Regions from separate parts of the Homo sapiens genome. Here all the other regions are linked to region 1. Evidence: fine-mapped expression QTL. A gene starts in region 1. Each other region holds a variant in brackets. All regions are shown on one strand. Distances are between the middles of the regions. Region 1 holds the start of CATSPER1 (cation channel sperm associated 1). Region 2 has its middle 14 kb from the start of EIF1AD. Region 3 overlaps RAB1B (RAB1B, member RAS oncogene family).

Region 1 (8,258 bases):
AGTGGCACCATGTCGGCTCACTGCAACCTCCGCCTCCCAGGATCAAGCGATTCTCCCACCTTGGCCTCCCAAGTAGCTGGGATTAGAGGCACCCGCCACCACACCCAGCTAATTTTTGTATTTTTAGTAGAGACAGGGTTTCACCATGTTGGCCAGACTGGTCTCGAACTCCTGACCTCAGGTGATCCTCCTGCCTCAGCCTCCCAAAGTTCTGGGATTACAGTCGTGAGCCACCACGCCCAGCCTGCCTGGCCACATTTTTTAAATTTTATTTTATATATTTTTTTGAGACGGAGTCTCGCTCTGTTACCCAGGCTGGAGTGCAGTGGCGCCATCTCGGCTCACTGCAAGCTCCGCCTCCCGGGTTCACGCCATTCTCCTGCCTCAGCCTCCCAAGTAACTGGGACTACAGGCGCCCGCCACCACGCCCGGCTAATTTTTTGCATTTTTAGTAGAGATGGGGTTTCACTGTGTTAGCCAGGATGGTCTTGATCTCCTGACCTCCTGATCCACCCACCTCGGCCTCCCAAAGTGCTAGGATTACAGGCATGAGCCACTGCGCCCAGCCTGCCTGGCCAGTTTTTAAAACATTTTCAAGTGAGTGAGTCTTTGTTGAATAAAGGCAAACGTTTTGCTCCATCATTACTTTTCATCTCCAAGAGTTTCTGACACCAGTGCCTCTCTGTGAAGAAAGCAGTGTGTTGTGACAACATCAAGTTTTTGTTTGTGGTTTTGTTTCTTTCCAAGAACAGTAAAAATTCTTATGGAGCTAACCACTGATTTGAACCATCAGTATAAATGCCAAGGTAGTTCTTCCAAGACAGACTTTTTGATGATTCCTGATATGAAATGACATTAAATCTATCTTGGCTTTTTGTTTGTTTGGAAAAGCTGAAACATTTTCTCGATGATCATGCTGACCATTTACAGATCTTACTAGTGCTATGGCGTGGTAAGCATTCACCATTTTATTGGTGAAATAAGTTGACTCATCAGCCAGGATAAAGATTATGTTGTGGCCGGGTGTGGTGGCTCACGCCTGTAATCCCAGCACTTTGGGAGGCTGAGGCGGGCGGATCACGAGGTCAGGAGATCAAGACCATCCTGGCTAACATGGTGAAACCCCATCTCTACTAAATATACAAAAAATTAGCCGGGCGTGGTGGCGGGCTTCTGTAGTCCCAGCTACTCGGGAGGCTGAGGCAGGAGAATGGCGTGAACCCAGGAGGCGGCATTGCAGTGAGCCAAGATCGCGCCACTGCACTCCAGCCTGGGCGACAGAGGGAGACTCTGTCTCAAAAAAAAAAAAAAAAAAAAGCAAGTTGTTTTTCAGTTTATTATCAAGAAAACAAAAACGAAAACCTGTTCAGTATCAGAGATCATGTCATCAACATGTGAGGTTGTTGTTCTCTCTCAGGGTAGAGTCTTCTCTTTTTCTTTCTTTCTTTCTTTTTTTTTTTTGAGATGGAGTTTCGCTCTTGTTGGAATGGTGTGATCTCAGCTCACTGCAACCTCCGCCTCCTGGGCTCAAGCAATTCTCATGCCTCAGCCTCCCAAGTTCCCAAGCAGCTGGGACTACAGGCGCACACCACCACATCCAGCTAATTTTTTGTATTTTAGTAGAGACAGGGTTTCACCATGTTGCCCAGGCTGGTCTCAAACTCCTGAGCTCAGGCGATCCACCCGCCTTGGCCTCCCAAAGTGCTGGGATTACAGGTGTGAGCCACCATGCCCAGCCCACACAAATTGTTTCTTTGTCTGCTGCTGGCAACAGATAGTGAGCTCCTTAAAACAGGAGCCGTGTCTCTTTCATCACTGGGAACCCAGCAGCCACTATGGACATGGCTCTGACCAAGCACTCAAGAAGCTGAGACCCATAAGCTTCCAGAAGAGCTGCGCTGTGCACATATGAATTCAGCATACAGGGCAAGCTCTGCAGTGGATTCCAGGAGGAAGACAGGACAGCATGAAGGTTACAGATACAGACTTGGAGTGAGATAGCACTGACGGTAAGTTTTCATTCATCAAGCAACTCATTTATATTCTCTGAGCCATAGCACCTTTGTCTGTCAAATGGGGATAAACAATATCTACCATGTGGGGCTATTGTGAGGATTAAATTTAATGTGTATGGGCCGGGCACGGTGGCGCATGCCTGTAATCCCAGCACTTTGGGTTGTCGAGGCGGGCAGATCGTTTGAGATCAGGAGTTCGAGACCAGCCTGACCAACAGGGTGAAACCCCATCTCTACTAAAATACAAAAGAAGTTAGCTGGGCGTAGTGGTGCACGCCTGTACTTTCAGCTACTTGGGAGACTGAGGCAGGAGAATTGCTTGAATTCAGGAGGTGGAGGTTGCTGTGAGCTGAGACCATGCCACTGCACTCCACCCTAGGTGACAGAGCAAGACTGTGTCTCAAAAAAAAAAAAAGAAAGAAAGAAAACAAAATGTGTATGAAGCAATCCTCAATAAATGATGGCTGATAGTTTAATTTTGGTAATAACCCTAAAGGGGGGTTCCAAGATCAAGAAGAGAATAATAATGCCAATTAACATGTATTGGCCAGGCATGGTGGCTCACACCTGAAATCCCAGCACTTAGGGAGTGCGAGGTGGGTGGATCATTTGAGGTCAGGAGTTCAAGAGCAGCCTCGTCAACATGGTGAAACCCCGTCTCTACTAAAAATACAAAAATTAGCTGGGTGTGGTGTGCACCTGTAGTCGCAGCTACTAGGAAAGCTGAGGCAGGAGAATTGCCTGAACCCAGGAGGCAGAGATTGCAGTGAGCCAAGATTGCACCCCGGCACTCCAGCCTAGTGACAGAGTAAGACTCTGTCTCAAAAAAAAAAAAAAAAAAATTAGCCGGGGTGGGGTATGGTGGTGGGTGGCTGTAATCCCAGCTACTCAGGGGGCTAAGGCAGGAGGCTCACTTGAACCTGGGAGGCAGAGATTGCCATGAGTGGAGATCATGCCGCTGCACTCCAGCCTGGGTGACAGTGAGACTGTCTCAAAAAACAAAAACAAAAACAAAAAAACATGGGCTGGGCGCAGTGGCTCACACCTGTAATCCCAACACTTTGGAAGGGCAAGGCAGGCGGATCACGAGGTCAGGAGATCAAGACCATTCTGGCTAACATGGTGAAACCCCGTCTCTACTAAAAATAGAAAAAGTTAGCCGGGCGTGGTGGTGGGCGCCTGTAGTCCCAGCTACTTGGGAGGCTGAGGCAGGAAAATGGCATGAAGCTGGGAGGTGGAGGTTGCAGTGAGTCAAGATCGTGCCACTGCACTCCAGCCTGGGCGACAGAGCGAGACTCCATCTCAAAAACAAACAAAGAAACAAACAACAACAACAACAACAAAAACCATGTATTATGCTGTTAATATAAGGCTTACATATCTTAACTTTTTTGATCCTGTGGGCTAGGTATTATTATTCCCATTTTACAGAGGAAGAAACTGAGGCACGGGAAAGTTCAGCAACAAGCCCAAGGTCACACACCTACTTATGAGGGAGTCAGGCAGTCTTCACCCCAGAGCCAGCTGATCTCTAGATGGGACTGAAGACTGGACCACTTGGACCATTTTCTTTCCAACAACAGGGCTAAAGTAGCTGATGAAGCCATGGCGCCCCCATGGACTTCTTTGTCCAGCTTTGCCAGTGACCTGTGAGGTCACCTTGGTCTAGTCCTTCCCTTTTCTTGACCTCGGTTTCCTCATTTACAATGAAGGAGTTTGACACAATAATTCTTGATTCCGAACTATAGCCCAGGAAGAGGCATTTGGGAATGAGGCCCTGGCCTGCTGGTGACATCATAGAGGGGAGAGTTCCACGAGAATAGTCAGGCCTTTCTGGAAGCCCAGTGCCACAGTCTGCATTGAGCTTGGCTCAGGAAAGAAGGGAAATCCAGGCGGGGCCTGTTGGGCCCAGGTCTTGAGCTCTTTTGGCTCCAGAGTTCCCAGCACAGTCATGGATCAAAACTCAGTGCCTGAAAAGGCTCAGAATGAGGCAGACACCAATAACGCAGATAGGTTCTTTCGCTCTCACTCATCACCCCCACACCACAGGCCAGGCCACAGCAGAGCTCTCCACCATTACGAGTTGCACCATCACGGCGTGCCCCACCAACGTGGTGAATCTCACCACCCTCCGGAGTTCCAAGACTTCCACGACCAAGCCTTGTCCTCCCATGTCCACCAATCTCACCACCACAGCGAGGCACGGAATCACGGCAGAGCCCATGGCCCCACAGGCTTTGGTCTGGCTCCCTCTCAAGGCGCCGTCCCCTCCCACCGTTCCTACGGTGAGGACTACCATGATGAGCTCCAACGTGATGGCAGGAGGCATCATGATGGGTCCCAATACGGTGGGTTCCATCAGCAGAGTGACTCCCATTACCATAGGGGGTCTCACCATGGCAGACCCCAATATCTCGGTGAGAATTTATCCCACTATTCCTCTGGCGTGCCCCACCACGGTGAGGCTTCCCACCATGGTGGGTCCTACCTCCCCCATGGACCCAATCCCTACAGTGAGTCCTTCCACCACAGCGAGGCTTCCCACCTTAGCGGGCTCCAACACGATGAGTCCCAGCATCACCAAGTCCCCCACCGTGGCTGGCCCCACCATCACCAAGTCCACCACCATGGCAGGTCCCGTCATCATGAAGCCCACCAGCATGGAAAGTCTCCTCATCACGGAGAGACCATTTCCCCTCATTCCTCTGTGGGGTCCTACCAGCGTGGGATATCTGACTATCACAGCGAGTACCACCAAGGTGATCACCACCCCAGTGAGTACCACCATGGCGACCATCCCCACCACACACAGCACCACTACCACCAGACCCACCGGCACCGAGACTACCATCAGCACCAAGACCACCACGGCGCGTATCATTCCAGTTACCTCCATGGCGACTACGTCCAGAGCACTTCCCAACTCTCTATCCCACACACATCCCGGAGCCTGATTCACGATGCCCCCGGCCCTGCTGCTTCTCGTACAGGAGTCTTCCCCTATCACGTAGCACACCCACGGGGCTCGGCTCACAGCATGACTCGGTCCTCCAGCACAATCCGCTCACGTGTCACCCAGATGTCCAAAAAAGTCCATACCCAGGATATCTCCACCAAACATTCAGAAGACTGGGGCAAAGAAGAAGGGCAATTTCAGAAACGCAAAAGTGAGTCTTTGCTGGGCCCCCCATGCCAACTCCTGCTGCCTGGCGCAGGATCCAGACCTGATCTCGGCCCCGCACTGTCCTTCCGCAGATCGTAAGGCCCGACCCTCCTGCACAGGTCCCCCACTGGCTATTCACTCTCCTGACTGTTCATGGTCCCATCTTTTATTCCTTGAATTATGTACCTCTTTAGGCCATGAGGTGTTTGTTCATTCAGTCACTGCCTTATTTATTCATATGTCTACCAGTCAAACATTGATACTCATCCAATGTGGGTGTGTGGCCTGCCTGGGCCATGGCAGCATGGGGAAAAATTCAACACAGTCGCTGCCCTCGAGGGGCCCAAAACTAGGAGTGGTCACTTAGCTGACCACAGATCATCCTGTGCTCGGGGCCTGCCCTCAGAACATTTACCATGGTGGATTCTATCTGTCCAGATTTCTCCCACTCACCTGTGAGCTGCTTGAGAACAGAGATTAGGAACTAATGCCTGAATGAGGGCCTTATTGGAGGGCAAGGAGGGACCATGGCCTTTAGCTCATACGCCACCAAACTTTCTTCCTAGTAGTTCAATAAACATGACAACAGGCCAGGCGCGGTGACTCACGCCTGTAATCTCAGCACTTTGGGAGGCCGAGGTGGGTGGATCGCTTGAGGTCAGGAGTTCAAGACCAGCCTGGCCAACATGGCGAGATCCCGTCTTTACCAAAAAAATACAAAAATTAGCTGGGCGTGGTGGTGCACCCCTGTAATCCCAGCTACTTGGGAGGCTGAGGCAGGAGAATCGCTTGAACCCAGGAGGCAGAGGTTGCAGTGAGCCGAGATCGTGCCACTGCACTCCGGCCGGGGTGACAGTGCAAGACTCCGTAGGAAAAAAAAAAAAAAAAAAAAAAAACAAATAGGCTGGGTGCGATGGCTCACATCTGTAATCCTAACATTTTGGGAGTCCAAGGTAGGTAGATTGCTTGAGGTCAGGAGTTGGAGACCAGCCTGGCCAATATGGCAAAACCCTGTCTCTACCAAAAAAATACAAAAATTAGCCGGGTGTGGTGGTGCGTGCCTGTAATCCTGGCTACACAGGAGGGTGAGGCAGGAGAATCTCTTGAAGCTGGGAGGCGGAGGTTGTAGTGAGCCGAGATCACGATACTGCACTCCAGCCTGGGCAACAGAGCGAGACTCCATCTCAGAAAACAACAACAACAACAAACAAAATATGACAACAGTCTCAGGAACAAGCAGAGAGGGGCAAGTGTGTTATTAAATGGGGACAGGAAAGGCAGCCCAGAGGAGGGAACATTTCATCAGGACCTGAAAGGGAGAGGATAAGTTTACCAAGAGGATGGGATGATGAGGAGGGTGGGTTTTCCATATGTAAGTTGCCACGTGAGCAAAGAAAGGCATGGAGGCATAGGAGTGGGAGCCCTCAGGATCCCCAGAAGCCAACTCCAAATCCCCAACAGGCTGGCCCCTGCCACAGAAGGCACAGGACCAGCCTGTTGGGGATTTGCTGGCCAGGCTGGTCTCAAACTCCTGGCCTCCAGTGATCCGCCTGCCTCAACCTCCCAAAGTGCTGGGATTACAGGTGTGAGCCATTGCTTCTGGCCACAATTATGCCCATTTTAAAGACAACAAAACTGAGACATAGAGCAGTAGTGAAGTCGCGCAGCTGCTTACCCAGAGCTGGAGAGAGCCTGGGAATCCGGGCTTGTGTGAGGCTCATGCTGAGGAGAGAGAGGGCACTGGGTGCTGGGGACAGCCCTGAGCGCACCCCTGTGTCCCTGCAGAGTGGTACTTCATGGCCTTGGACTCCATATTCTTCTGCATCTACGTGGTGGAAGCCCTGGAGGCCAGGAGTTCGAGACCAGCCTGGCCAACATGTTGAAACCCTGTTTCTACCAAAAATACAAAAATTAGCCGGGCGTGGTGGCAGGCACCTGCAGTCCCAGCTACTTGGGAGGCTGAGGCACAAGAGTTGCTTGAACCCGGGAGGCAGAGGGCCAGCAAGCAGGCAGGAGTGACCATGGACGCTGAGCCAGGCTGGGGGGTGCCTGGGACCTCGTGTCCCCTCTTGCACACACTTGACTTTCTGGCCCTGTTCCTTTCAGCCGGCCGGCTCCAGCGGACCCGCAAGAAGGGACACTCTACCAATCTCTTCCAGTGGCTGTGGGAAAAGCTAACCTTCCTCATTCAGGGCTTCCGGGAAATGATCCGGAACCTGACCCAATCCTTGGCCTTTGAAACTTTCATCTTCTTCGTTGTCTGCCTCAACACCGTCATGCTGGTGGCCCAGACCTTCGCTGAAGTCGAGATCCGGGGCGGTAAGAGCCAGGGAGTCCTGTTCCCATGGAGAAGCCACCGATGCTCTTCCAGGACCTCCGTGGGCCTGATCCAGTGCCGGGCGGTTTATAGGACTCAGCTCACTTGATCCTCACCCCTGGGAAGTAGATGGCCTTACCCAGTATTAGAGAGCGTCTCAGAAAGACCCCGCTGAGGCCGGCCCGAGACAGAAGGACCCGCTAGGCGGGAGGCGGTGCTGTTCGCGCCGCAGCCACTAGGGAGCGCATCTGCTCCAAATGTGCGGCTGAGGGCGGGCGGGCGCCTGGAGCCCGAGCTTCGCGGAAGGGCCGGGAGCCCGAGAAGGCCCTGGAGGGGCGAGGATGTAAGGTCGGGGAAGGCTGGGCCCTCCAACGCCGTGGAGCAGGGTGAAGGACAGGAGCTGCCCGGCTCGCTGTCTCAGGCTCCATTCTAAGCACTTCGCTTGTGTTCATGCATTTAACGCTCACAACTCTATCAAGTGGACTTCAATTATCCCCATTTTATTTTATTTTATTTTAGACGGAGTCTGGCTCTGTCACCCAGGCTGGAGTGCAGTGGCGCGATCTCACTGCAACCTCCGCCTCCCGGGTTCAAGTGATTCTCCTGCCTCAGCCTCCCAAGTAGCTGGGACTACAGGTGCCCACCACCATGCCCAGCTAATTTTTGTATTTTTGGTAGAAACAGGGTTTCACCATGTTGGCCAGGCTGGTCTCGAACTCCTGACCTCCAGTGATGCGCCCGCCTCAACCTCCCAATGTGCTGG
Region 2 (8,264 bases), 38 kb after region 1:
GGCAGTCTGAGCTCACCACATGGTTTTCCTCTTCTAATCTGTAAATGTGGTGGAGTATCATAACATTCTCTCACGTTAAGATATCCTTGCATTCCTGGAAGAAGACAGTCACAATGGATTTGTTATTATACTGCCGGATTTGGTTCTCTGGTATTTTGGCATCCAGGTGTATAGGTGAAATGGTTTAAGGTTTTCCTTTTCCGTACTGCCCCCACCCTTTGTTTTGTATCAAGGTTATACCAGCTTCATATAAATAAGTTGGAAAGTGTTTTCCCTTTATTTTCATTACGAGAGTTTGTATAAGATTGGAATTTTGCATTTCTACAATTTTTGGTAAAGCTTGCTGTAAAACCAACCATGCCTGGCGATTTTTTGGGTGGGTGGGTAGGTAGGTTTGGAATTAGATTGTCAGTGGTAATAGATTACTCAGGTGTTCTGTTCTTCAGTCATATTTTCAAGGAAAAATATTTTCATGTTATTTATTTATTTATTTATTTTTGAGACAGGATCTTGCTCTGTCGCCCAGGCTGGAGTGCAGTGGCCCCATCTCGGCTCACTGCAACCTCCGCCTCCCGGGTTCAAGTGATTCTCCTGCCTCAGCCTCCCGAATAGCTGGGATTACAGGTATGTGCCACCATGGCCGGCTAATTTTTGTATTTTTAGTAGAGATGGGGTTTCACCATGTTGGCCAGGCTGGTCTCAAACTCCCGATCTCAGGTGATCTGCCCACCGCAGCCTCCCAAATTGCTGGGGTTACAGGCGTGAGCCACCACACCCAGCCCCCATATTTTCTCATGTTTGCTATGGCTTCAAACTTACTGGCGCAAAGTTATTTGTATGATTGCCTTATGTTTGTAATCTTGGCTGTATCCAAAGTTATGTCCCCCTTTTTACATGTAATATTGTTTATTTGTGCCTTCTCTCTGTTATAGCTGGTCAATCTTGGCAGAAGGTCATTATTAGTCTTTTCTAAGCACCAGCTTTTTGTTGTCATTCTTTGTATTGGTATTTCATTAATTGCTGCTCTTACCGTATTTCCCACTTATACTCCCTTTGTTTTTGTTTGTTTTTGTTTTTTTCTCATAACCAATGGGAAACAAACCAATCCCTCTGGGTTTATCCTGTAGTTCTTTTTCTTTTTCCTTTCTTTGTTTTGTTTTGTTTTGTTTTGTTTCTGAGATGGAGTCTTGCTCTGTCACCCAGGCTGGAGTGCAGTGGTGCAATCTCAGCTCACTGCAACCTGTGCCTCACAGGTTCAAGCCATTCTTCTGCCTCAGCCTCCTGAGTAGCTGGGATTACAGGCGCCCACCACCACGCCTGGCTAATTTTTATATTTTAGTAGAGACGGGGTTTCAGCATGTTGACCAGGCTGGTCTCGAACTCCTGACCTCAGGTGATCCACCCGCCTCGGCCTCCCAAAATGCTGGGATTACAGGCGTAAGCCACTGAGTCTGGCCTATATTTAAACATTTTGGCTGGGCATGGTGGCACATGCCTGTAATCCCAGCTACTTGAAAGGCTGAAGGGAAAGGATTGCTTAAGCCCTTGAGGAGTTTGAGGCCAGCCTGGGTGACATAGTGAGACTCCCTTTCAATAAAAAATTAAAAGTCAAGAATAATTAAATATTTGGTTGGTTATTTTTAATAATGTGAGCAGCTTCAAACCCACCACCATAAAATAAAGGCTAGGACTTTAACAATAACCCAAGTAACATACTCCACCTCCCATCCTACCCTGACCAGCCCATTCTCTGCTGTCCCACCCAAGGCAACCATTGTCCGAATTCCATGTGCACTTTTTTTCTTTTTACATGGTTTGCTTTATTTTTATTTATTTTTATTTATTTATTTATTTACTTACTTACTTACTTTTTGAGATGGAGTCTCGCTCTTGTCGCCCAGGCTGGAGTGCAATTGTACGATCTCAGCCCACTGCAACCTCCGCATCCAGGGTTCAAGCAATTCTCCTGCCTCAGCCTCCCGAGTAGCTGGGATTACAGGCCTGCACCACCACACCCAGCTAATTTTTTTTGTATTTTTAGTAGAGATGGGATTTCACCATGTTGGCCAGGCTGGTCTCGAACTCCTGCCCTCAGGTGATCCACCCGCCTTGGCCTCCCACAGTGCTGGGATGACAGGTGGTGAGCCACCGTGCCCGGCCTGGTGCTTCGTCTTTAGTAGTTGCCCAGTTGTCTCCCAGGAAAGTGACTTGGGCCACAGAACCGTGGGTTTTGTCTTCATTCAAGGCCCAAACATCTCTACTGACCTGTGTCTGAGAAGCACACAGAGAAGTGTGGGCAGTTTCCTCAGTGGGAGCCGCCCTCAGAAAATCACTGATGAAGCAAGAAGTCAGGACACCACGGACACCACCAGCAGTTCATGCTGTGCGTGTGTTTGATCCACTGGTGACATTTGCAAGAGAATCCAAAAGCCCCTGTGGGAGGTGTGGAGGCATGCCGTATGCCTCATCTGGTGACACTGAGGAATGAAGAATTAGCAGTACAGGCTGGGCGCGGTAGCTCACGCTTGTAATCCCAGCACTTTGGGAGGCCAAGGCAGGTGGATCACCTGAGATCAGGAGTTCGAGACCAGCCCGGCCAACTGGTGAAACCCTGTCTCTACTAAAAAAATACAAAAATTAGCTGGGTGTGGTGGTGCACGCCTGTCATCCCAGCTACTTGGGAGGCTGAGATAGGAGAATCGCTTGAACCCAGGAGGGGAGGCAGAGGTTGCAGTGAGCCGAGATGGCGCCACTGTACTCCGGCCTGGGCAAGAGCAAGACTCCAACCAAAAAAAAAAAAAAAAAGAACTAGCAGTGCCCAGGGCTGTACACCAGGTGCCAGTACTGGCAGCAATTCTTCCAGTTATTGTGATAGATTCTCATGACGCTAAAATACCCACTTTGTTATTTAACCCTTGCTAATCCACAATGAGTTGCCAAGTACCAGAATCCTTTGTTACTAACCAGACCAGGCTGTTCATTCTTGAACAGCATTGGGCATCACTTTGTTTTAATAATTCTTGTATGAGAAGAGCACTCTTTTCCTTCTGATAGCAATGTGGCTCCAACTACTGGCTGATGTGAGACGGTACCGGCAGTTCCTGGCTGTGTATTCTGCCAACATTTAGAGAAGCCACCAGCAGAGGTCACCCTAAGCACGTAAAACCAGCAAGTCAGCACCTTGCCTTGGGCTACAGAACCCGAAAGCATCTAACCTAGTTACAGTCTCATAAGGGAACTGCATTCTTGGTCCAATCAAAGGGTCCACATGCCCCAACAGCAGTTAGGATGCTGGTAGACCACTGCGAACACAAGTTCCACTCCCCCAGAGATGGATTCACTCACCAAGGCATGATCAGAAGTGGCCTTCCTCCCCAGCAGCATTTACAAGCTGGAGTACAGTGCTTGGAGGGTGGTGGGGAACTGCCCTGGTTTTTTTGTTTTTTGGGGGACCCAGTTTCACTTTTCTTGCCCAGGCTGGAGTGCACTGGCGCGATCTTGGCTCACCGCAACCTCCGCCTACTGGATTCAAGCGATTCTCCTGCCTCAGCCTCCCAAGTAGCTGGGATTACAGGCACGCACCACCACGCCTGGCTAATTTTGTATTTTTAGTAGAGATGGGGTTTCTCCATGTTGGTCAGGCTGGTCTTGAACTCCCGACCTCAGGCGATCTGCCCGCCTTGGCCTCCCAAAGTTTTGGGATTACAGGCGTGAACCACCGCGCCTGGCCGCCCTGGTCTTTCAGTTAGAAAGCACCCAAATTGAGGTGCAGGAGGACTCACATGGAGGTGTCTGTGGCTGTGTCCCCCAGAAACCCTGCTCTGGACAAGGATGAGGTACCCCTGTAGTTAATGTCTGAGGATTCAGGGAGCCTTGGACCTGGTAGATGGGCAGCAAGGAGGGGCTGGTAAGACCTAAGAACTGCAGCCTCTGGAAGGGTCGTCTCCCCAGGGCCCCTCAGCACATGTATTCAGCTCCCCTTCTAGTGACTGCTGAAGCTTTCAGGCCTTTGGGGGTTTTGCCTCCCTGCGTTCTTCTCTGAAGGCTCCAAGTGCCTTCTTTCATGTGGGTCTCCCATCCGCTTTGTGTCTGCCATAATTTAGCTTTCGACAATGGAGTTCTGTCTTATCGATCCTACTCACGATCTATGGCCACATCTTTCCTTCCTCGCGCCCTCCCTTCCTTCCTTGCTTCGTGATCTCGGCTCACTGGAACCTCTGGCTCCTGGGTTCAAGAGATTCTCCTGCCCCAGCCTCCTGAGTAGCCGGGATTACAGGCACCTGCCACCACGCCTGCCTAATTTTTTGTATTTTTAGTAGAGACGGGGTTTCTCCATGTTGGTCAGGCTGGTCTTGAACTCCTGACCTCAGGTGATCCACCCGCCTCAGCCTCCCAAAGTGCTGGGATTACAGGCGTGAGACACTGCGCCCGGCCCACACATTCCTTTTTTGGGGGGGTGGGCCGCAGGAGACCTGCCCATCTGTCCTGCTTCTTGCTTCTCCCTTTCACTTTGTCCAGGGCTGACAAATCAGCCGTTTCTGAGGAGCCCTCCTGTCTGCCTCCTTCCCCAGGTGGGGTGTGCATTGGCACAGAAGGGCTGTTTTGCTTCTCTCACTGCCCCTGAACAGGTGCCTGAGGAGGGAAAGGCCTGGGACCCAAGGCAGAGCAGGTGGCGTGCTGTGTCTGTTGGGCAGGGGCGAGGTGGGGAGGACACTGGCAAGGCTCCTTAAGGCCGGGGGGTACGGGGCTCAGGGACTCGGAGAATCAGCATGCAATGACAGCATCGATGTGTCCGGGGCTCAGGGAGAGGGAAGTGGGACCCAGCCTGATCTGAGTGGAGACCCTGAGTGGGGCCAACTCCGTCTTCCCAGTGTGTTTGGGCTTTGGAGACATGCCCAAGGCAGGACAGCTTTGATTCTCACCACAGCCCTGGGGG[C/A]CACGACGGCTGTCTCCTCCCTACACCATGGTGAAGACATTCAGACCAACAGAATATAGGAGTTTATCACCAGCAGACAGAAGGAACTTCTAGAAAACAAACTTCAGAAACAATGAGAAGATTTGGCTATCAGTATTTTATTAATATCATAAAATATGTTAAGAGCGCTTACCATCTTTTTCTCTGATCTGGAGTAGTTTAAATAGCATTTGAATGATCTATTATCTAAAGGTAAAGCCTTTAGATAATAACCTTTTTTTTTTTTTTTTGACGGAGTCTCACTCTGTCACCCAGGCTGGAATACAATGGCACCATCTCAGTTCACTGTAGCCTCCGCCTCCCAGGCCCCAAGCAATTCTCCTGCCTCAGCCTCCTGAGTAACTAGGATTACAGGTACCTGCCACCATTCCCGGCTAATTTTTGTATTTTTAGTAGAGACAGGGTTTCGCCATGTTGGCCAGGCTGGTCTTGAACTCCTGACCTCAGGTGATCCGCCCACCTTGGCCTCCAAAAGTGCTGGGATTAAAGGTGTGAGCCATGGTGCCGGTCAATAAACTTTTGAAGCTTTAAAAACATCTAGGCTTGGTGCCTTTTTTGATGCGTCAAAAAATAACCGCAGCAAAGATTTACGTTGTTTTTAGTTTTGGAAGCTCTTTATTAGAAGGCACCGTAGTGGGAAGACAGCAAGTTACAGGCCTGGGAAATGAAGAACCTTACAGAAGAGAGGAAGGAGAAGGCAAAACCAGTGAGCTAGTTCCTTATGCCATATGTGAGTCACCATAGGAAGAGTTTATGAACTTTCACTCATTCTCATGCTGGCCTTTTTTTTTTTTTTTTTTTTCTTTTGGAGACGGAGTCTCGCTCTGTCGCCCAGGCTGGAGTGCAGTGGCGCGATCTCGGCTCACTGCAAGCTCCACCTCCCGGGTTCACGGCATTCTCCTGCCTCAGCCTCCCGAGTAGCTGGGACTACAGGCACCCGCCACCACACCCGGCTAATTTTTTGTAGTTTTAGTAGGGATGGGTTTTCACTGTGTTAGCCAGGATGGTCTCGATGTCCTGACCTCGGGATCCGCCCGCCTCAGCCTCCCAAAGTGCTGGGATTACAGGCGTGAGACATTGCGCCCAGCCATGCTGGCCATTTTTTATATTTATGTCATTATTTAAAACGATGCTTTTTTTTTTGACAGAGCCTCACTCAGTCACCCAGGCTGGAGTGCAATGGCACCATCTCGGCTCACTGCAACCTCCACCTCCCAGGTTAAAGTGATTCTTGTGCCTCAGCCTCCTGAGTAGCTGGGACTATTGGCACACACCACCATGCCCAGGTAATTTTTAAAATTTTTTTGTAGAGACAGGGTCTTGCTTTGTTACCCAGACTGCTCTAGAACTCCTGGCTTCAAGCAATCCTCCCACCTTGGCCTCCAAAAGTGTTGGAATTACAGGCATGAGTGACCGCACCCAGCCTTCTATACTGCTTCTAATAGAATAAAAGAATTTTTCCAGATTTTGTATTAAATGGAAGCAAACAGTATGTATAATTTCATGTCCATGAGGTTCATCCATGTTACTCATTCGGTTATATGAATGTCTACCCTTTGTTGATTTTTTTTTTAGAGACAGAGTCTCACTCTGTCACCCAGGCTGGGGTGCAGTGGCCATTCACAAGTGTGAGGATAGCTCACTGCAGCCTCAAATTCCCAGGCTCAAGCAATCCTTTGCCTCAGCCTCCCGGGTAGCTGGGACTACAGATACAGGCATGAGCCACCACACCCAGCTAAATTTAAAAAATATTTTTAGAGGTGGGTCTCACTATGTCACCAGGCTGGTCTTGAACTCCTGGCCTCAAGGGATCCTTAGCCTCCCCAGTAGCTGGGATTACAGGCACTAAGAACCATGCCCGGCTATTTATTCATTCTTCTGTTAATGGACATTTGGGTTGTTTCCAGTTTGGGGCTGTTATAAATAGTGCTGTTAAGAACATTCTTGTTCATGTCTTTAGCTGAACATATGTATGCTTTTCTGTTGCTAAGCCAACATGTTCTTGTTCTCTCTTTTTAAACAAAGTTCTATAATGGAAATTTTCAAACATACTCAAAAGTAGATAGAATGGAATAATGAATCCCATTGTACCTGTTACACAGCTTCAGTTTTCTTTTCTTTGTATTTTTTGGTTTTTTTCTGAGACAGGGTCTTGCTCTGTCGTCCAGCCTGGAGTGCAATGCATGATCCTAGAACACTGCAGTCTCCAACTCCTCCTGCCTCAACCTCCTGAGTAGCTGGGACTGCAGGTGCATGCCACCATGCCTGGCTGATTTTTAAATTTTTTGTAGAGATGGGGATCTCGCAATGTTGCCCAGGCTGGTCTCCAGCTCCTAGCCTCAAGCAATCCTCCTGCCTCGGCCTCCCAAAGTGCTGTGATTACATGCACGAGTCACCATGCCCAGCCAATATCATCATTATTATTACTAACAATAAGACTATTAAATGTGTTTAAGATTTCATTATGTTAATTTAAAAATTTTTAAATAGATATCCTACTAGGGATGTGAGGTCAAAATATTCTATCTTAAAATCTTTTGAAATAATTCTGGTTGGGTGTGGTGGCTCATGGCCAGAACTGCAATGGGTGCAGTTGCCTGAACTGAATCCTTTTGCTAAAACCTACTATCGGCTGGGTGTGGCTAGTACTGCAATCCCAGCACTTCGGGAAGCTGAGGCAGGAGAATTGCTTGAGCCCAGGAATTTTGAGACCAGCCTGGGCAACATAGCAAGACCCTGTCTTTGCAAAAAAATTAGCCAGACATGATAGCATGCAGCTGTGGTCCCAGCTACTCAGGAAGCTGACGTGGGTGGATCACTTGAGCCAGGAGGTCAAGGCTGCAGCTAGCCATGTTTGTACCACTGTACTCCAGCCTGGGCGACACAGTGAGACCTTGTCTTAAAAAAAGTAAAAAGGATATTACTAGGCTGGTGACCTGCTAGTGGTGGCCGCAGATGGAGAGGCTTCCCTTGGCAATGATTTAGTAGGGTGGGATGGGAGTGGGGCTGGGCCCAGAGATGCTGACCCCCTTTGTACCATTGAGTGAAGCCAGTAAACCTGCCCCACCCCAGGCATACCCCCTTCTATGAGGTACACCCAGCCCCCTACTCACCCTGACCAGCCTGGGGAGTGAGAGTGCCCACTGCTCATCAAGGTGGAAGGCAGAACTCATCAGCTTGTAGTCAATGCAGTACCTGCAACAAAGCTGCTCCAATCCAGAATGCACCCGAGGGAGAAAGATGTCTGAAGTCCTCATAGCTGTCTCATCTGCAAAGTGACTTCCCAGCG
Region 3 (8,000 bases), 250 kb before region 1:
GACCCCACACCTCTGCCGTGTGCCCCGCGGGAGTTGGCGGCGGCACGCCAGGTATGAGCTGATGGCCGCCTGCCTCTTTCCCTGACAGAACGGTGCTGGGCCCTTGGGGACAGACCACAGAAGCACAAGCAGCTTTCCTGGCCTCAGGAAACGGGGTCAAGGGCTTTTGCCAGCAGCCTTAGGACACAGAAACCAAGCCAGGACCCCCGTGCACCCCACCAAGCCCAGGGTTCCAGTTCCATCCCCCCACCCCAAGGCTGGGCTTAGACCACAGACCACACTTGGCCACCACAACTTCCTTGCAAAAACCCTCAGCTCACCCGAGGGCCAATGGAAATTTATTAATTTTTTTTGTCCTTTTCCATCTTTCCCCAAGTGGCTTTTCCTTGCAAAATGCCTGACATGACACCAGAGGGGAACCTGGGAGCGGGGGGCACCCCAAGGGGGCAGCCCAGGGACTTAAATACAAGCTGGAGGGCAGGGCACAGGTGGGACAGGCAAGAGACAGCACGAGGGACATGGCTTCTCAGGGAGACCAAAGACTTGCTTTCTTGCAGGAAGCAGCTGTGCCAGAGGGCAGGGGACTAGGATCCTGGGTGCAGAGTGGGTGAGCAGAGAGGCCCCCAATCCTGGATGGAACCCACATTCCCCAGAGAAGTAGCGGCAGGGGATGAGGGCCTTCCCTGGTGGGCTCCAGAGACGGAGTGGGGAGTGAGCCAGATGTGCTACCTTGGGGAAAGGGAGGAGGTGCTAGCAGAGTGAGGGTTAAGGCTGGTGCCCAGCCTCTGGCACGGTGGGCCTTCCGCCTCCGCCTGACATGGGGACAAAGGGGCACGGTGGGCAGGCAGCGCATGGGTCTGTCTCTGGCAGGGCAGAGGGCGGCAGGAGCAGACTCCCTCCAGGCTCAAGACACAGGCCCAGCACTGCTACCCGCCCACCCGCCCTAGATATACTCAGATCCCACCGCAGCTGGACGGCTCGAGCTGGGAGTGTAGGAAGGGAGAGGAGGCAGTGGGGAGAGGAAAGGGTGGGCTGCTGGGCCCCTGTGGCCTCCATGCCTGTCCTGAGGTCCAGCCCAGGGCCCTGGATCCCAGGTCCTGGATCCCCTGGCCACATTCCTCGCCCTGGGCACTGACTGCAGCCAGGGCAGTAGAGGCCGGGGAGACCCTCAGTTCTTGGGCAGGACAGCAGGAAGAAGAAGGAGAGAACCCAGTGCAGCATACATGGGGGTGGGAGGGACACCGACAGAAGAGCCCTCGTTCCAAAGAAAGGTGTGTAGGGGGGCATCTTGGAAAGTCACCTAGAGGCAACAGCACAGCAGGCCTCCGCCCTGCCTGGCCACAGGCCCTGAGTGTCCTCCCTTAGGGACCCTGACAGAACCGGGGCTCAGGGCAGCAGGCAGATGGGCCAGAAGGAGATGGGGAGCCCAGGACACCCCAAAGCCACAGACTCAAATGCCCCAGGAGAGGGAGAGGGAGGTACCTCCTGCCCCCTCCAGGGACATCATCTGGAGAAGGTGCCCCCTCCTGTCCCACTCCATGTGCCCCTCCTAGCAACAGCCACCGCCAGCCGGCTTTACAGGGGTGCTGTCGATCTTGAGATTGGGCCGCTCGCCCCCAGAGGCTGCTCCAGGCCCCATCCGCTTTTTGATTTCAGCAGCCATGGTCATGAACGCCTGCTCGACATTGGTGGCATTCTTGGCGCTCGTCTCCAAGAAGGGGATGCCCAGAGAGTCTGCAAACTCCTGACAAGGGAGAGGAGAGAAGAGGAGGGGAGAGAAGAGGAGGGGAGAGCAGGTGAGGGGCAGCAGGCCCCAGCGCCCCGACCCCGGGCAGACCGGCCCGTCTGCTACCTTGGCTGTGGTGTTGTCCACCACCTTCTTGGTGGTGAGGTCGCTCTTGTTGCCCACCAGGAGCTTATTGACGTTCTCGCTGGCATAGCGGTCAATCTCCTGCAGCCACTGCTTCACGTTGGCGTAGGATTCCTAAAGGGGGCCAGGGGCCAAAGTTATTTTGCTCCCAACTGTCACCCCTACCCCAGGCCTGGAGAAGACCTTCTCTGAGGGGAACAGTACAGCTCCGGGCCCCTTAAGTCCTGGGCTCAGCGATGCAGAGATGCAGAGGAAGCCCTCTGCTCCAGGCTGAACCTTCCTCCCTGCCCTCTTCCATCCGAGACCCAGAACAGCCCCAGCAGCCTGCCAGCTGCCCCAACACCTCAACAGCTGCCCCAACTTGGGCCTGCCAGCTCTGCTCCCTGCAGCTGTCTCTCTCCCTGAGACACTTGCAGGCCCTAACCACATGTGAGAAGCAAAGAGAGAGCGGACGGGAGATAGGAACAGAGAGTAACGGGTCCGCAAGAGCCACAGTTCCCACCGTGGCCTGAAAATCCCTTTAAGGTTTGAAGCCTTGGAGCACAGGAGTTCGAGGGTCCTCTCAGAGGTGGCCCTGGCCTGTGGGGAGACAGGAATCCTGGGAACAGCCTAAAATTCATCCTACTTTTGGCACCAACAGCCTCATTACTTGGCTTCAGACTCTCCCAGCACTTGCGCCCCTACCCCACACACAAAGGACAGGACTTTCAGGAAAGTGCTCAAGCTAGGGCCACTTATACTCCTTAGGAGCCAGAAGCCTGGTCATATCACACTGGCTCAAACTTAGACCTCTTGCCATGTTCCAAGTTGGGTCCTGTGCTAAGTGCTGGGGACAAAGGGGGAAATCATACTTGGGCCCTGCCCTAACACATTCACGGGACAGTAGATGAATAGACCAGGCCACACACAAGGGCAAAACAGGTTAGAAGGCAGGGGCTGGGGAGCCCCCAGACCACCTCTGCTTGAGGTGGGAGCAACAGTGGACCTAAGCCTGCAGGTGGGAACTGGCCTTGTGCAGGAGAGGTGCCAGCTGGGGAGCCAGCATGTGCCAGGTCACTGAACGGGAGGGGCATGGTGTGTCTGGGGAATGGGAGGAAATGGAATGTTGCTGGGATGCAGACACTCAACAGGGAGGGGGGACAGGGAGGGGGAATGGGGGAGTGGGGAGGAGAAAGGCAAGAGGGGAGAGGGGGAAGAGGGGAGGAAAGAGGGGGGATTGGGGAGAGGCCAGAGCACAGACTGTCTTAGCATGGCTAAGTCTTGGACTTAGACCAGGAGCCAGTGGGCGTTTCTTAGGCCAGAAGCAACAGGATCACACCTATGCTAGTCCTGACAGGAGGCAGAGCCCAGATCAGAATAGCAAGATAGAGACCAACTGGGAATGGCTGGAATAACTCAGGGAAGAGAACGTGCACTGAGCCAGGGAAGCACACAGGATTTAGTCAGACCACTGCTGCTGAAGGCCTGGCTCAGCCATTTACTGTGTGACC[C/T]CAGGTATGTTACCTGACCACTCTGAGCCTCAGTTTCCTCATTTCTATAAACAGTACCTCCTAGAAGGGCTGATTGTGAGCATGAAGAGAATGAACACAGGCTTGTCTCATAACAAGTGCTTAATTGGCAAGAGCTGCTATTATCCTCATCACTGCTATTATTATGAGGGGACAGATTTCAGAAAGATGATGGGGAGAGAATAGAGGGGACTCGAGACTGACTGGATGGGGGAGGGAAGAGTTTTCTGGTCAGGCTGACAAGGATTGTGTCACAAAGATGGGGATGCAGCTGGGGCATGGTGGTGTGTGTCTATAGTCCCAGTGACTTAGGAGACTGAAGCAGGAGGATCCCTTAAGCCCAGGAGGTTGAGGTTACAATGAGCTATGATCACACCACTGCACTGCAGTCTGGGTGACAGAGTGAGACCCCATGTCTTAAAATAAATAAAAATATTAAAAATGGGGATAGAGGCGCTGGTTTGGGGAGAGACAGTGAGGCCAGCGCTGGACATCTGAGTTCTGCAGAGGCTGCTTGAGGGTGGGAAAGGGTGTGCTCAAAAGCCAAGAGCCCTCCAAAACTGGCTTTGCCCTTCCCGTGAGACCGGTGGCAAGTTACTTAACACCTCTCCAAGCAAGTTTCCTCATCTAGAAAACACAAACCTCACCATTTAGTTTACTAGAGAAGATCATGAAGATCAGGATTAATACAGACACAAAGTGCCAGTGTAGACATGGACAGAGGAGGGAAGCCACAGCCACGGCTGTTAGATGCAGGAATCACAGAACACAAGGCAGAAGCAAACCACAGAGTGGCCGCAGCCATGCACAAGAGTAAGGAGGAGAGTCCAGGGCAGTGGGGAAGCACCAAACACAGGGTGATGGGAGGCAGCACTGGACAGACCAGCAAATAGACACTGACAATAGAGAATCGAGTGCTGCAGGAGACTGAGGAGCGGGGGATGGTCCACTTTTCAAGGAGAGAGAAGAGAGCAGTGTCCAAAGCCACGAGAGGTCAATGTGCTGAAATAAGATCACTGGATATATGGCAGTCAGGTGGGCCCTGGTAACTTGTCTGGGTGGTATGTAGCTTCCCCACAGCTCGTCCAGAGCTGGGGACATCATGAGTCCCTGGTGAGCTAAAGAGCCCGGCTGCTCCTCAGACAGGGACTCTTCCCGGCCCACGGCTGATTTAAGCTTCTCCTTATCTTCAGGGATTGGCCCTGTTAAGCAACAACATTTGGTAGAAAAAACAAAGCAGGTGGAATGAGCCATCCAGGCTTTCTGCCTCTGCCACCGGACTAGCTGAAGGACCCTCGGCAAGTCACCTCACCATCCTGAGCCCAGCTCCTTACCTGTGCGATGGGAACACAGACCTCTTCTGAGCATCAGAGGCAATCTGAGGGCTGGGCCAGGTTCTGTAAACTATAAGGTTTCATGGAACCATTTCCAGCCCTTGCTACCACCACTGCTAGTCACATGGGACTAACGCTGCTGCTGGAGGCAGAGCTTCTGGATCTCTGCTCACATTGGGCCCAGAGCTCAAGCTTCCCTGCTTCTTTGTCTAAGGCCCTCTAATTGTCCCCCTGCACTGTGTCTTCACACAGGAAGCCACAGGCCCAGCATAGCAGCCAACCGCCTGACTAAACTCCCACAACACAAAGGTGCCCAGAAGGTCTACAATAAGGTGGCAAGTTTGGCTTGGTGGGGAGGGAAGGTGTGAGGCCTTGTCCTGCCAGAACCTGCAGCAGGGCCTTCAGAGGATCCATTTCTGTGGCTGTTTCCCTCCTTGTGAAATGAGTCCAAGTACAGTCACCTATTTTTTTTCTTTTTCCTAGTTAGTTCCTGTAAGCAGACAAATAGTGTCCTTTCCAGGAAGCATCAGGAAAGAGAGGATGGAAGGAGGAAAAAGAAGAGTCAAAGACCTAAGGCTAAGGAGGCCAAGCTGAGGATGGCTAGTCCAGGAGTACCTGGTCAGTGACGTCATACACCACGATGATGCCATGAGCCCCCCGGTAGTAGCTGGAAGTGATGGTCCGGAACCGTTCCTGGCCCGCTGTGTCCCACTAGGAGACAGTAGGCAGAGGAGCAGGTCAGCTGAGGTCCAGAGTCCCAGAGTCCCTTCCCTCCCAAGGTGGATACCTCTGTACTGGGGATTTTGGGAAGAGCGACACTCACGATCTGAAGTTTGATAGTTTTGCCATCCAGCTCGATGGTTCGGATCTTGAAGTCCACCCCGATGGTGCTGATGTAGCTCTCTGTGTACGTGTCATCCTGAAAGTTCAGGGGCCAATGAAATCATGGGAGTTAATGAGGTGAGGCCCACTTGGAGAGCCTCCCTCCAGTTCCCTGCCCCAGCTGGGTCTCCGAACCACCAAGCCCCAATTCCCAGCACTCAGCTGGCCAGCCCTGTCTTGTTCAGGGCAGATGTGCTGGTGGCAGGTCTTACAGCTTCACCCCTGGTTCCCAGATCTTGCAACTACTGTGCTCTGTGTTGTCCCTTCTCCCCCCAGCTGCCAGTCAGGACCCCAGGTGGATGGTATGGGAGGCTTCTTACTCACAGCAAACCGCAGGAGCAGGCATGACTTGCCCACGCCTGAGTCGCCAATCAAAAGCAGCTTAAACAGGTAGTCACTGGAGAGAGAAGATGGGAAGGCGTGAAGGGAGGCAGGGAGCCCACCTACCATCATCCTGGAGTCACAATTACAGGATTCCCCCACCCCATGAGGCATCCCTTGGTTTATTTTTATTTTTTTTTTAGCAATAAGGTCTCACTCTGTCACCCAGGCTACAGTGCACTGAAGTGATCACGGCTCATTGCAGCCTCTACCTTGCGGGCTCAAAGTGATCTTCCCACCTCAGCTTCCTGCGTAGCTGGGACTTCAGGTGTCCACCACCACCACCACTTCTAGCTAATTTTTTTTTTTTTTTTTTTTTTTTTTGAGACTGAGTTTTGCTCTTGTTGCCCAGGCTGGAGTGCAATGGCGCGATCTTGGCTCACTGCAACCTCTGTCTGCCGGGTTCAAGCAATTCTCCTGCCTCGGCCTCCCGAGTAGCTGGGATTACAGGCACCTGCCACCATGCTTGTCTAAGTTTTGTATTTTTAGTAGAGACAGGGTTTCACCATGTTGGCCAGGCTGGTCTCGAACTCCTGACCTCAGGTGATCCACCTGCCTTGGCCTCCCAAAGTGCTGGGATTACAGGTGTGAGCCACCACACCCGGCCCCTGGCTAATCTTTTCATTTTTTGTAGAGATGGGGTCTCACTATGTTGCCCAGGCTGGTCTCAAACTCCCGGGTTCAATTGATTCACCTGCCTTGGCCTCTGAAAGTGCTGGGATTACAGGGGTGAGCCACTGCGCCTGGCCATCCCTTGGTTTAGAATACTATGGTGCTCACCAGATCTTCCCAACAGTCCCGGTCAGGGAGGGCTGATGCCTCCCTCCACAAACAGCTAGCCCAAAGGGCTCTCAGCTTGCTGAGTCTAAATTCTCACTTTATGGAGAAAGAAATCAAGACACGTGACCTGCCAAGGCAACAGAGCTGGGTATCCTAACCTGATTTCTGAAACTTCATGGTTTGGTCCAGTAGGAGCTATTTAGGGAATCCCCAGTACATGCCCTGCGTGTGCCTAGCTTGGCAGAGAAGGCCCCAGAAGTAGAAGCCAGGGCCCAGCCTAGAACCTATTAAGTTGAAAACCCACGTAGAGAGACTGATGGCTGGGTGCTGTGGCGTGTGCCTGTGGTTCCAGCTACTGGGGAGGCTGAAACAGGAGGAGGATCCTTGGAGCCTAGGAGTGTATGACCAGCCTGGGTGATGCAGCACAACCCCGTCTCTCTTTTCTTTTGTTTTTTCGAGACAGAGTCTCGCTCTCTCACCAGGCTGGAGTGCAGTGGCACGATCTCGGCTCACTGCAACGTCCGACTCCCTGGTTCAAGTGATTCTCCTGTCTCACCCTCCAGAGTGGCTGGGATTACAGGCATGCGCCACCATGACTAGCTAATTTTTGTATTTTTAGTAGAGACGGGATTTCACCATGTTGGCCAGGATGGTCTCGATCTCCTGACCTCGTGATCCACCCACCTCGGCCTCCCAAAGTCCTGGGATTACAGGCCTGAGCCACCGCACCCGGCTAACCCCATCTCTTTGGAGACAACAACAACAACAACAACAACAACAACAACAACAACAACAACAAAAACCTGTTATGAAGTCACCAGGAAGAGGTGGTCAAGTTGCAGTGAAAATTGCACTTAAGGCTGGGTGCAGTGACTGACACCTGTAATCCCAACACTTTGGAAGCCCGAGGCACGAGAATCATTTAAGCCCAGGAGTTTGAGATCAGGCTGGGAAACATATCGAGACCCTGTCTTTACAAAAAATTAAAAAATGTGCCAGGTGTGGTGGTGTGCCTCTGTATTCCCAGCTACTCAGGAGGACAAGGCAGGAGGACTGCTTCAGCCCAAGAGTTGGAGACTGCAGTGAGCCATCGTCACGCCACTGCACTCCAGCCTGGGTGACAGAGAGAGACCCTGTCTCAAAATAAAAAAAAAAAAAGGCAAAAGGTAATCACATTTAATATACTTGAGTTCCAACCTGTGGACGGACCCTGTGTGAAGTACTTTAAATGCATCATCTCATTTA

Evidence for each region.
Region 2: its variant is fine-mapped to the expression of CATSPER1 in whole blood (INTERVAL, PIP 0.96).
Region 3: its variant is fine-mapped to the expression of CATSPER1 in whole blood (TOPMed, PIP above 0.99).

The regions. Positions count from the first base shown.
Region 1 is chr11:66,022,088-66,030,345 of GRCh38, reverse strand. It overlaps CATSPER1 (cation channel sperm associated 1), which reads left to right and starts at 3,867. Exons shown (of 12, transcript NM_053054.4): 1 at 3,867-5,182; 2 at 7,285-7,497. The coding sequence starts at 3,967. RefSeq lists an enhancer at 7,195-7,696.
Region 2 is chr11:65,984,013-65,992,276 of GRCh38, reverse strand. It overlaps the pseudogene LOC100420020. Among named protein-coding and RNA genes, the nearest start is that of EIF1AD, 14 kb to the left of the region's middle. RefSeq lists an enhancer at 2,846-2,915. The variant C/A (reference allele first, on the strand shown) is at 4,937.
Region 3 is chr11:66,269,788-66,277,787 of GRCh38, reverse strand. It overlaps RAB1B (RAB1B, member RAS oncogene family), which reads right to left. Exons shown (of 6, transcript NM_030981.3): 2 at 5,919-5,991; 3 at 5,536-5,631; 4 at 5,328-5,423; 5 at 1,853-1,984; 6 at 296-1,744. The coding sequence ends at 1,550. LOC107984340 (a long non-coding RNA gene) reads left to right here. Exons shown (of 2, transcript XR_001748274.1): 2 at 5,196-5,631. Among named protein-coding and RNA genes, the nearest start is that of CNIH2, 4.4 kb to the left of the region's middle. RefSeq lists an enhancer at 4,703-5,902. The variant C/T (reference allele first, on the strand shown) is at 3,361.